3 linked regions of the Homo sapiens genome follow. The protein of the gene in region 1 interacts with the protein of each later gene in a biochemical or structural test. Each region holds a gene or a part of one and is shown in the gene's direction. Other genes may lie near its edges.

Region 1 (3,500 bases):
TATATTTGACACAAAGGCATCCTTTTGGCTAATCTAACACAAATCAGAGTTCACAGTCTTCAGTGATTAACCAAATTTGTAAGATGTAAAGATTACTAAACAGTGGGCTAGATCATTGTAATGAGTACTGTCTGATAATTTTCTTTGTCCGCTGTGTTTGTATTTTTAATTAAACATAAATAGTATTGGACTTTTCCAGGTATAAGCTTATCTGCCTATGGTTCTGGCTCAAGAGCACGGAGAAGATACATGGTTGGTCTAGGTTGGGTGATATGCTTATCCTAGAACCCAGTACTGAGACTACGAGGAGGAAAGGCTCAGATTGGTCAGGTGTGGGTCCTGTGGGTGGAGTTGGCCCCACTAGAACACAAGGACTAATCAGACTTACCATAAAAGGGGAGAAAAAAGCTCCCTTGGAAGAGATAAAGGACTAACAAAAATATGATGTCTACTCTGAGTCACATCTCTAAATGTATTTGTTTTCTAGGAGCCGTTACTATTAATAATTCTTTTAATTAGAAATTGGAATATTCTATAAACATTTATTAAGATAGGTAGGACCAGATATGATAAGCACTATAATGAAGGAGAGTATGAACGACAGTGAGAACATAGAAATGGAAGTAATACATATGGTTTCATTGAGGAAATGCCATTTGAGATGGGCTTAAAAAACAAGTGCAATTTCAATGTTTGGGATCAGGGAAAGGTCCTTCAGAGCAAGAAAACAATATTAGCAAAGGCCAGTGGTGTGAGCTGTGTTTCAGAGCAGGTATCCTGGTATGGTAAGAATGTAGTGCTGAGATTCAGAAATGGGAGATGTTAACTGGCCACATTTGCTTCTGAACCTAAGGTGCTTTAAGTAACATTCAAAGGACCTTCAAGTCATCCTGAAGGTTCTAGGCCTGTCTCATACTGGGTTTTCAGGAAGTATGTCAGGAGATGTGAGAAGTCAATAGTGTTTTCTTCATGGTCTGTGCTCTTGAAGATAGAGTGCTATCTATCTTCAAGGTAGATAGGTAGTGGTACAGAATGGACATTAATTAAGATGATATTAAAAGGGGCTTATTGTAGGTCCCTTTTGTCAATGTCTCTCACTGGACCAAGGCTTCTCAAAGTGAGGTCCCAGGACCAGCAGCAATCAGCATCATCTGAGGATGTTAGAATTGTTAGGAATGCAAGTTCTGGAGCCCCCCACCAGACCTGCTGAATCAGAAACTACATTTTATGTTGTTTCATTTGTTTTGATCAGCTTTGTTACAGTGTATTTTACATACAATAAAATTACTAAGTTTAAGTGTACAAATCGGAAGAGTTTTGTAACCATCCCCAAGTGGTATTTCCATCACCCATACAGTTCCTTGTTTTGTATTTGCAGTCAGTACCCTCCCCCACACTCACATTCCTGGAAACCATTGATGTTTTCTGTCACTGTAGAAATTCCTTTCTACAATTTAGTATAAATGAAATCATGTAATGTATAGTCTCTGTGTCTGGCTTCTTTCTCTTAGCATAATATTTTTGAGATTTATTCGTGTTGTATGTATCAGTAGATCGTTCCTTTTTATTGCTAATAATATTTCATTGTACAAATGTAATTTTTTTTTCTTTTTGAGACGGAGTTTTCCTCTTGTTGCCCAGGCTGGAGTGCAATGGCGCAATCTCAGCTCACCATAACCTCCACCTCCCAGGTTCAAGCTATTCTCTTGCCTCAGCCTCCCATTACTTTTTCTTTTTAATGAGATACAGTCTTGCCCTGTTGCCCAAGCTGGAGTACAGTGGCATAATCTCAGCTCACTGCAACCTCTGCCTCCCAGGTTCAAGCGATTCTTGTGCCTCAGCCTCCCGAGTAGCTGGGACCAGAGGCACGTGTCACTCTGCCCAGCTAATTTTGTGCATGTGTGTGTTTTTTTAGTAGAAATGGGATTTCACCATGTTGGCCAGGCTGGCCTCCTTAGTAAATACTTAAGAGTGCAATTGCTAAATTATATTTTAACTTCATAACAAACTGTTTCTTAAAATGGCTGTACTGTCTTGTATTCCTACCAGCCATGTATGAAAATTCCAGTTTCTCTGCATTCTCACCAATAAATAGTATTTACAGCCTTTTTTAAAAAAATTACAGTCAGGGTCTTGCTATATTGCCCAGCCTGGTCTCGAACTCCTGAGCTCAAGCCATCTGCCCGCCTTGGCCTTCTAAGTGCTGGGATTATAGGTGTGCACCTCCGCACCTGGCCTTCATTTTCTTAATGGTATCTTTTGAAGAGAAAATGGTTTTAATTTTGACAAGTCCAGTTTATCATCTTTTCTTCTTTGTAGTTGTGTACTTTTGCTGCTGTATTTTAGGAAATCTTTGCAAAATCAATAATATGTTCTCCTAAGTTTACTTCTAAGACCAGCACTATTCAATAGAAATAATATGTGAGCCACATATGTAATTTTAAAAATTTTTGGTCAGGCAGGGTGGCTCACGCCTGTAATCCCAGCACTCTGGGAGGCTGAATAGCTTGAGGCAGATAACTTGAGGCCAGGAGTTCGAGACCAGCCTGGCCAACATGGCGAAACCTCGTCTCTACTAAAAAGTAATAAAAAAAATTAGCTGAGTTTGCTGGTGCACAACTGTAATCCCAGCTACTTGGGAGGTTGAAGCACGAGAATCGTTTGAACTTGGGAGGCAGAGGTTGCAGTGAGCCAAGATCATGCCACTTGCATTCTAGCCTGGGGGACAGAGCAAGACTTGGTCTCAAAAAAAATAAATAAATAAAAACTTTCAGTAGATATTTGAAATGGTGAACTTAATTTTAATATATTTCATTTAACTCAGTATATCTAAAATGTTGTTTCAACATCTAAGTGATATAAAACTTTATTAATGAGATATTTTACATTTTTAATACTGTCTTCAAAATCTAATGTATGTTTTCCATCTATAGCACATCTAAGTTTATACTAGCAACATTTCAAGTGCTCAGCCACATTTGACTCGTGGCTAATGTATTGAGCAGTACAGCTCTAGACAGTCAGAATTTTAGCTCTTACCTTAGGTCTGTGATCCATTTTGAGTTATTTTTATTGTTTTTGTTTTGTTTTTTTGAGATGGAGTCTCCCTCTGTCACCCAGGCTAGAGTGCAGTGGTGTGATCTCGGCTCACTGCAAGCTCCGCCTCCTGGGTTCACGCCATTCTCCTGCCTCAGCCTCCCAAGTAGCTGGGACTACAGGCGCCCGCCACCACGTCCGGCTAATTTTTTGTGTTTTTAGTAGAGACAGGTTTCACCGTGTTAGCCAGCATGGTCTCAGTCTCCTGACCTCGTGATCCTCCTTCCTCTGCCTCCCAAAGTGCTGGGATTACAGGTGTGAGCCACTGCACTCAGCCTTGTTTTTGTTTATTAGAAGCAAGGTCTCACTCTGTCTTTCAGGCTTCAGTACAGTGTGCAATCATAGCTCACTGCAGCCTTGAACTTCTAGGCTCAAGCAATACTCTTCCCTTAGCCTTCCAAGTA
Region 2 (2,712 bases), on another chromosome or scaffold:
GCTGGGATTGCAGGCGTGCACCACCAGGCCAGGCTAATTCTTTGTATTTTTAGTAGGGACGAGGTTTCACCACGTTGGCCAAGCTGCTCTGGAACTCCTGGCCTCAAGTAATCCACCCGCCTTGGCCTTCTGAAGTACTGGGATTACAGGCTTCAGCCACCGCACTCGGCCTTAAGTTTTCTAATTCTATATATTTTAGAAGTGTTTGGAGAGGTCTTCTAAGGAAAATAGTCATGAGATTTCCCAATATATAAAGGTTGAGAATCACTAATAATATGTCAGTAATGGAAAAAGCAGAGGAAACTGTTTTGTAATTCATAATAAATTTGTCCATTAAGTTATTCTATATTTTCAAATTTACTTATACTTTTATGATGGATAATAGGCCATTTGGTGGACTAAGTACCCACAGTTTATTCTTTCCACCAAATTTCAACTGCAAAAGTTTCTCTTGGCTATGCTTACCTTACTTTCTGCAATAGTTGTATTTGTTTTTTAATCTTTTATTTTTTTGAGACAGAGTCTTGCCCTGTCACCCAGGCTGGAGGGCAGTGCCACAATCTCAGCTCACGGCAAGCTCTGCATCCCCGGTTCAAGTGATTCTCTTGCCTCAGCCTCCCAAGTAGCTGGGACCACTGGCGCATGCTACCATACCCAGCTAATTTTTGTATTTTTAATAGAAAGAAGGTTTTGCCATGTTGGCCAGACTGTTCTCAAACTCCCGACCTCAGGTGATCCACCTGCCTAAGCCTCCCGAAGTACTGGGATTACAGGCATGAGCCACTGTGCCTGGCCAATAGTTGTAATTTTTTTTTTTTTTTCCTGAGACGGAGTCTTGCTCTGTTGCCCAGGCTGGAGTGCAATGGACTGATCTCAGCTCACTGCAACCTTTACCTCCCAAGTTCAAGTGATTCTCCTGCCTCAGCCTCCCGAGTAGCTGGGATTACAGGTGTGTGCAACCATGCCCAGCTAATTTCTGTATTTTTAGTAGAGACGGGGTTTCACCATGTTGGTCAGGCTGGTCTCGAACTACTGACCTTGTGATCCACCCGCCTCAGCCTCCCAAAGTGTTGGGATTACAGGCGTGAGCCACAGCGCCTGGTCAATAGTTGTATTTTTAAAGCATACATAAATCATTGTTTTAAATGACATAGAGTCATTTAAAATGGATTAGCACTTGTATATACTTGCCTTATCTAATTATTCCCCCATTTGATCTTCTATAGAAATCTTTATACACATACAGTCATCCCTTGGTATCTGTGAGGGATTGGTTCCAGGACCCCTGCAGATACCAAAATCCATGGATGCTCGAGTCCTTTATATATAAAATGGTGTAGAGCCAGGTGCGGTGGCTCTTACCTGTAATCCCAGCACTTTGGGAGGCTGAGGCAAGAGGATCACTTGTGCCCAGGAGTTCAAGACCAGCCTGGGGACCCCAGTGGGACCTTATCTCTACAAAAAATTAGCTGGGCGTGGTAGTGCAGTCCTCTAGTATCAGCTATGTGGAAGCTGAGGCAGGAGGATCACTTGAGCCCAGAGGCTGAGACTACAGTGACCCATGATCATGCCACTGCACTCCAGCCTGGGCAATAGAGTGTGAGACCCTGCCTCAAAAAATAAATAAATAAATAAATAAAATCATGTAGTATTTCCATGTAACCGACACACTTCCTCTGATACACTTTAATCTCTTGATTACTTATAATACCTAACACAATATAAATACTATGTAAATAGTTGTTACACGGTATTGTTTTAAAATCTGTAGTATTTTCTCTTGTTATTTTTTAGTTTCTTGTTGTTTTCAAATATTTTCAATCCACAGATGGTTGAATCCATGGATATGGAAGGCTGACTATGTGCATACACATATATTTATGTGTCTATATAACCACATGGAATATCTTTTAACAAAATTAATTTTAAAGTAAACTATCAATATTTTGCATTTAACAAGTTTGAAACATAAAATATATGTAGATTTATGAGGCTTATTTTTATATTAATGGAAGTGTTACCATGGGAGAATGTTTCAGTTTTCCCTGTTAGCCTCGATGAGAACAAGAGTGCAATAAACAGAATGGTTGATATGGGAAAGGCTGGTGGCTAGAAGGCTAATGCCATCTCTGTCTTTAATTTAACATTATAGAGCAGCCTGTAAGAAGGGCTTTTCCTTCACTGTTACCTATTTTTACCTCAAGTACTTCTGCTACTCCCTTATAGTCAACTGAAACTCTTAAGAAATATCATAGAAAATCACAGAAAATCCTAATATGACTAGTACAGAATTCTTTTTTTTTTTTTTTTTTTTGCTTGAGACAGAGTCTCGTTCTGTAACCCAGGCTGGAGTGCAGTGGCATGATCTCAGCTCACTGCAACCTCCGCCTCCTGGGTTCAAGTGATTCTCCTGCCTCAGCCTCCTGAGTAACTGGGATTGCAGCCATGCACGACCACACCCAGCTTTTTTTTTTTTTTTTTTTTTGATACAGAGTTTCACTCTTGTTGTCCAGGCTGGATGGAGTACAATGCCGTGATCTCTGCTCACCGCGATCTCCGCCTCCTGGGTTCAAGCGATTTTTCTGCCTCAGCCTCCCCAGTAGCTGGGATTACAGGCATGCGGCACCACGCCCAGCTAATTTGTTGTACTTTTAGTAGAGATGGGGTTTCTCCATGTTGGTCAGGCTGGTCTCGAACTCCCAACCTCAGGTG
Region 3 (3,500 bases), on another chromosome or scaffold:
CTGAAATTTAATATTGTTAATTTATTTTTGATTTCCTACAGGTGAACTGGCACAAAGGTTAATCTCAAGATGCCGCTAGTGAAAAGAAACATCGATCCTAGGCACTTGTGCCACACAGCACTGCCTAGAGGCATTAAGAATGAACTGGAATGTGTAACCAATATTTCCTTGGCAAATATAATTAGACAACTAAGTAGCCTAAGTAAGTATATATCAATTAAAAATATACTCACAAACCAGAATGTTATGCTTTAGCGTATTAAGAAGTTGTGCTTCTGATTAATTTGGGAGTATGATTTGGTGAGAAGAGTACAAAATTATCCTGAAAAATATAGTCACATGAGTATAATTATTGAGTTTTACAAGAACCTCTTCTGCATGATGTTTCTTCTGGGAAAGGAAAATACGGACAGAATCTCTAGGAACAGAAACACATGATGAATGAAAATTATTGAGATTGTTTTAAAAATATATAATCTGCGAAAGGACCAGAGTTGTACTTTTCCTTGGTTATTATCACTATTTACTCTGTTTAGAGGCCTCAACTATTTGTGTTTTCAAACACTAGTATCCCTCTCTTTATATATATATTTAATTAGTTTAGGGAAATATTTTTATATTAGCAAAGATCTAAGGTGAGAGGTATGGGGTCATTATTAGTCAGAGGGGTAGGCTAGTCAAGTGGGATGTCTAAGAGACATTAGGATATAAGTCAGGAATCTGATATGCAGCATTGTGTGAAAACAGCAAATGAACTTGGCCTCTGGCAGACAGAAGTCAAGCAGGTTGGCCAGAGAATAAAGGCCAGTGAAAGAGGCAGATTAGGGAGAAGGAGACAGGCAATATGTTCTCATTGCAGATTTACAGAATAGAGCAACTTGGTTAAGGAATTAAACAAATTATTTTCTATTCTAAGTTTATTTAGAAAATTTAAAAAATCTGGTCTGTCTTTTGCATTGAAGGATTAGCTTTTTCATAAGACATTGATATTTCATTTTAAAGGTGAAACAAGGTGTTCTTGGCAGAGATAATATCCACCAAGTGGTCCTAGATTTATCTCATCAGCCATATAAATTCTCCTGATAAGCAGGCTTGGCTTTTCTTTTCTTTTCCTTTTAACTTTTGTCCTTTCTTTTATAATTGAGTACTTAGCACAAGAGGTTGTTAATCTAATTTGTTTCCGGTAAGAAAGTTTAGGCATACCTGTAGCGAGAGCAACATAAAAAGTTACATTTGAATATTCTCTGTGAGAGTACTAAATTTTTGCATTGCCTGTGAAATAGTAAGAATAAATAAAAGGCTATTTTATTTGAATTTTAAGTATATTCCTTGTTCCATTCAGTGGTCATTTTTTTCAGGTTAGTGAATCACTAAAATATTGTATTGTTTACTTGAGGCTAATAAAAAAAGTGTTAGAGTTCCCAGTTTAAATATGATTAACTATATTGTTTAAAGATATTTTGCAGATTTTTTGTGACCTAGCACGGATTGAATCAAGTATAACATGATGTCATATAAAATTTGTTTTATATATGTTATGTACATACATAAGTATATAAGCATGCTAATATTAAAATACATGTTAAGAACATAGAAATGGCATTAGTAATTTTGTATAACATATTTCTTAAAATGAATTGTGGATCCAGTACAGGCATCTTATTTTAGGTATATACCCAATATAGAATTTAGAACTAATATTGTGATTAAGGGTGATAATTTGCAGTACTAACCCATTTGTTACAAAACTTAAAGATGAAAATTTAAGGAATTTTTAAGTCTATATAGTCCATATAAGCAACATCTATCAGCAGGCACATGGTTATGCTGTAGCGAAACTCTGAAAATTATAAATACCTTGTAACAATATAACTAAATTAGGTGTTGGGTGCTTCACATTTAGAATCAGAGACCTGGAAGGCATTGTTTAAGCAGTTTGTAGAGATTCAAAAACAAAGAGAAAACCCATAAAATATTCTAGCAAGGTGTGACAATAGCTTACTGCCCTGAAATTAACTTCTCTGGCAGCTTTCCCACTTGACATAGTTGAGAACCTGGAATTAAATTTAAAAGGCCTCTAGATAGCCAGAATAAATAAACTCATGCACTAAAGACCATGCACATAAAATAACCAATTGATCCCTCTCTCAAAACCTGTTTACTTTTACCTTGATAGTTCAAACAGATTTGATGATGTGGTTTCCAAACAGTTATGCTTCAGAGGATAAAAGGAGGAAGCATGGGAGGAGATACTAGAAGGAGGCATCACTGAACCCAACCAAAAGGAGGTAGTTCACAGGAAAGGACAAAGTGATGTAAGGGAAGATGCAACATAAAAACTGGAAAGAAGCCATTTAATGTAAAGCAAATATCCTTATACATTTCAAGGCTGTTTTCTGGCCTAGGATAATATTTGATTTTCATAATTCATGCCCGTGAGTCCCTAAGAAAAAATTAAATTATGTTTAATTTTATATTCCATTTAAGAAGAGGGAAGCTTAGAATACATTTCACAAGTTTCCATCGAAAATAGTTAAAATAACAATTGATGTATTAGATAATAAAATCTGAATTACTTAGAAAACTTGGCTATCCAAAATGTTTCTAGATAATGGAGATTTTCACTTTGGTGCTATTATTAGTACTGAAAGTGCTTGAGAATATAGCAATGAAAGTAAACTGCAGGGATCCACATGGCTCAGGGCTGGATATCTTCCTGACCTTTTCCTCACAAAAATGTACTTCCTTTTTTTATTTTTTTGAAACAGAGTCTTGCTCTGTCACCCAGGCTGGAGTGCAGTGGTGCGATCTTGGCTCACTACAAACTCCACCTCCCAGGTTCAAGCAATTCTTGTACCTCAGCCACCAAAGCCGCTGGGATTACAGGCGAGTGCCATCATGCCTGGCTAATTTTTGTATTATTTTTAGTAGAAATGGGGTTTTGCCATGTTGGCCAGGCTGGCCTTGAACTTCTGGCCTCAAGTGATCCACCCGCCTCGGCCTCCCAAAGTGCTGGGATTACAGGTGTGAGCCACCATACCCAGCCAGTACATCTGTTTTTTGTGAGATTTTTCCTAGTAGAACATAATTCTGTTTTGTATTAGGTAATTACCACAAACCTATAATTCACTTTATATCAATTTCCTCTTTCTCATTTTATTGCTTTCTTAATGATGCAAGGTTTTTTACTCCTTAGCTGAGCTAGGTCCAGGTTCTTGTCTCACGATGAGGAAGAATTAGGCACACAGATACTCTAAGAGTGAATGGAGTAGAATTTATTAAGTGAAAGGAAAGCTCTCAGCCAAGAGAGGGGTCCTGAAAGCAGGTTCCAGGTTGCCCCGTCACAGTTGAATACAAGGGCATATATATATATATATATATATATATATATATATAGAGAGAGAGAGAGAGAGAGAGAGAGAGAGAGAGAGAGAGGAGAGAGAGGAGAGAGAGGAGAGAGAGAGAGAGAGAGAGAGAGACGCTGATGGGGCTGGGTTCCC

What was found. Proteins that work in one complex are often made in the same cells at the same time.
Region 2: the proteins of PRKAR2A (region 1) and CHD8 form a complex in vitro, tested with the Homo sapiens proteins (one study listed by BioGRID).
Region 3: the proteins of PRKAR2A (region 1) and WASF1 form a complex in vitro, tested with the Homo sapiens proteins (one study listed by BioGRID).

The regions. Positions count from the first base shown.
Region 1 is NC_000003.12:48,760,875-48,764,374, reverse strand, and holds part of PRKAR2A (cAMP-dependent protein kinase type II-alpha regulatory subunit), read left to right. Parts: intron 1-3,500. UniProt on the Homo sapiens protein: Regulatory subunit of the cAMP-dependent protein kinases involved in cAMP signaling in cells. Type II regulatory chains mediate membrane association by binding to anchoring proteins, including the MAP2 kinase.
Region 2 is NC_000014.9:21,387,412-21,390,123, reverse strand, and holds part of CHD8 (chromodomain-helicase-DNA-binding protein 8), read left to right. Parts: intron 1-2,712. UniProt on the Homo sapiens protein: ATP-dependent chromatin-remodeling factor, it slides nucleosomes along DNA; nucleosome sliding requires ATP. Acts as a transcription repressor by remodeling chromatin structure and recruiting histone H1 to target genes.
Region 3 is NC_000006.12:110,124,171-110,127,670, reverse strand, and holds part of WASF1 (actin-binding protein WASF1), read left to right. Parts: intron 1-41; 5' UTR 42-69; coding exon 70-202; intron 203-3,500.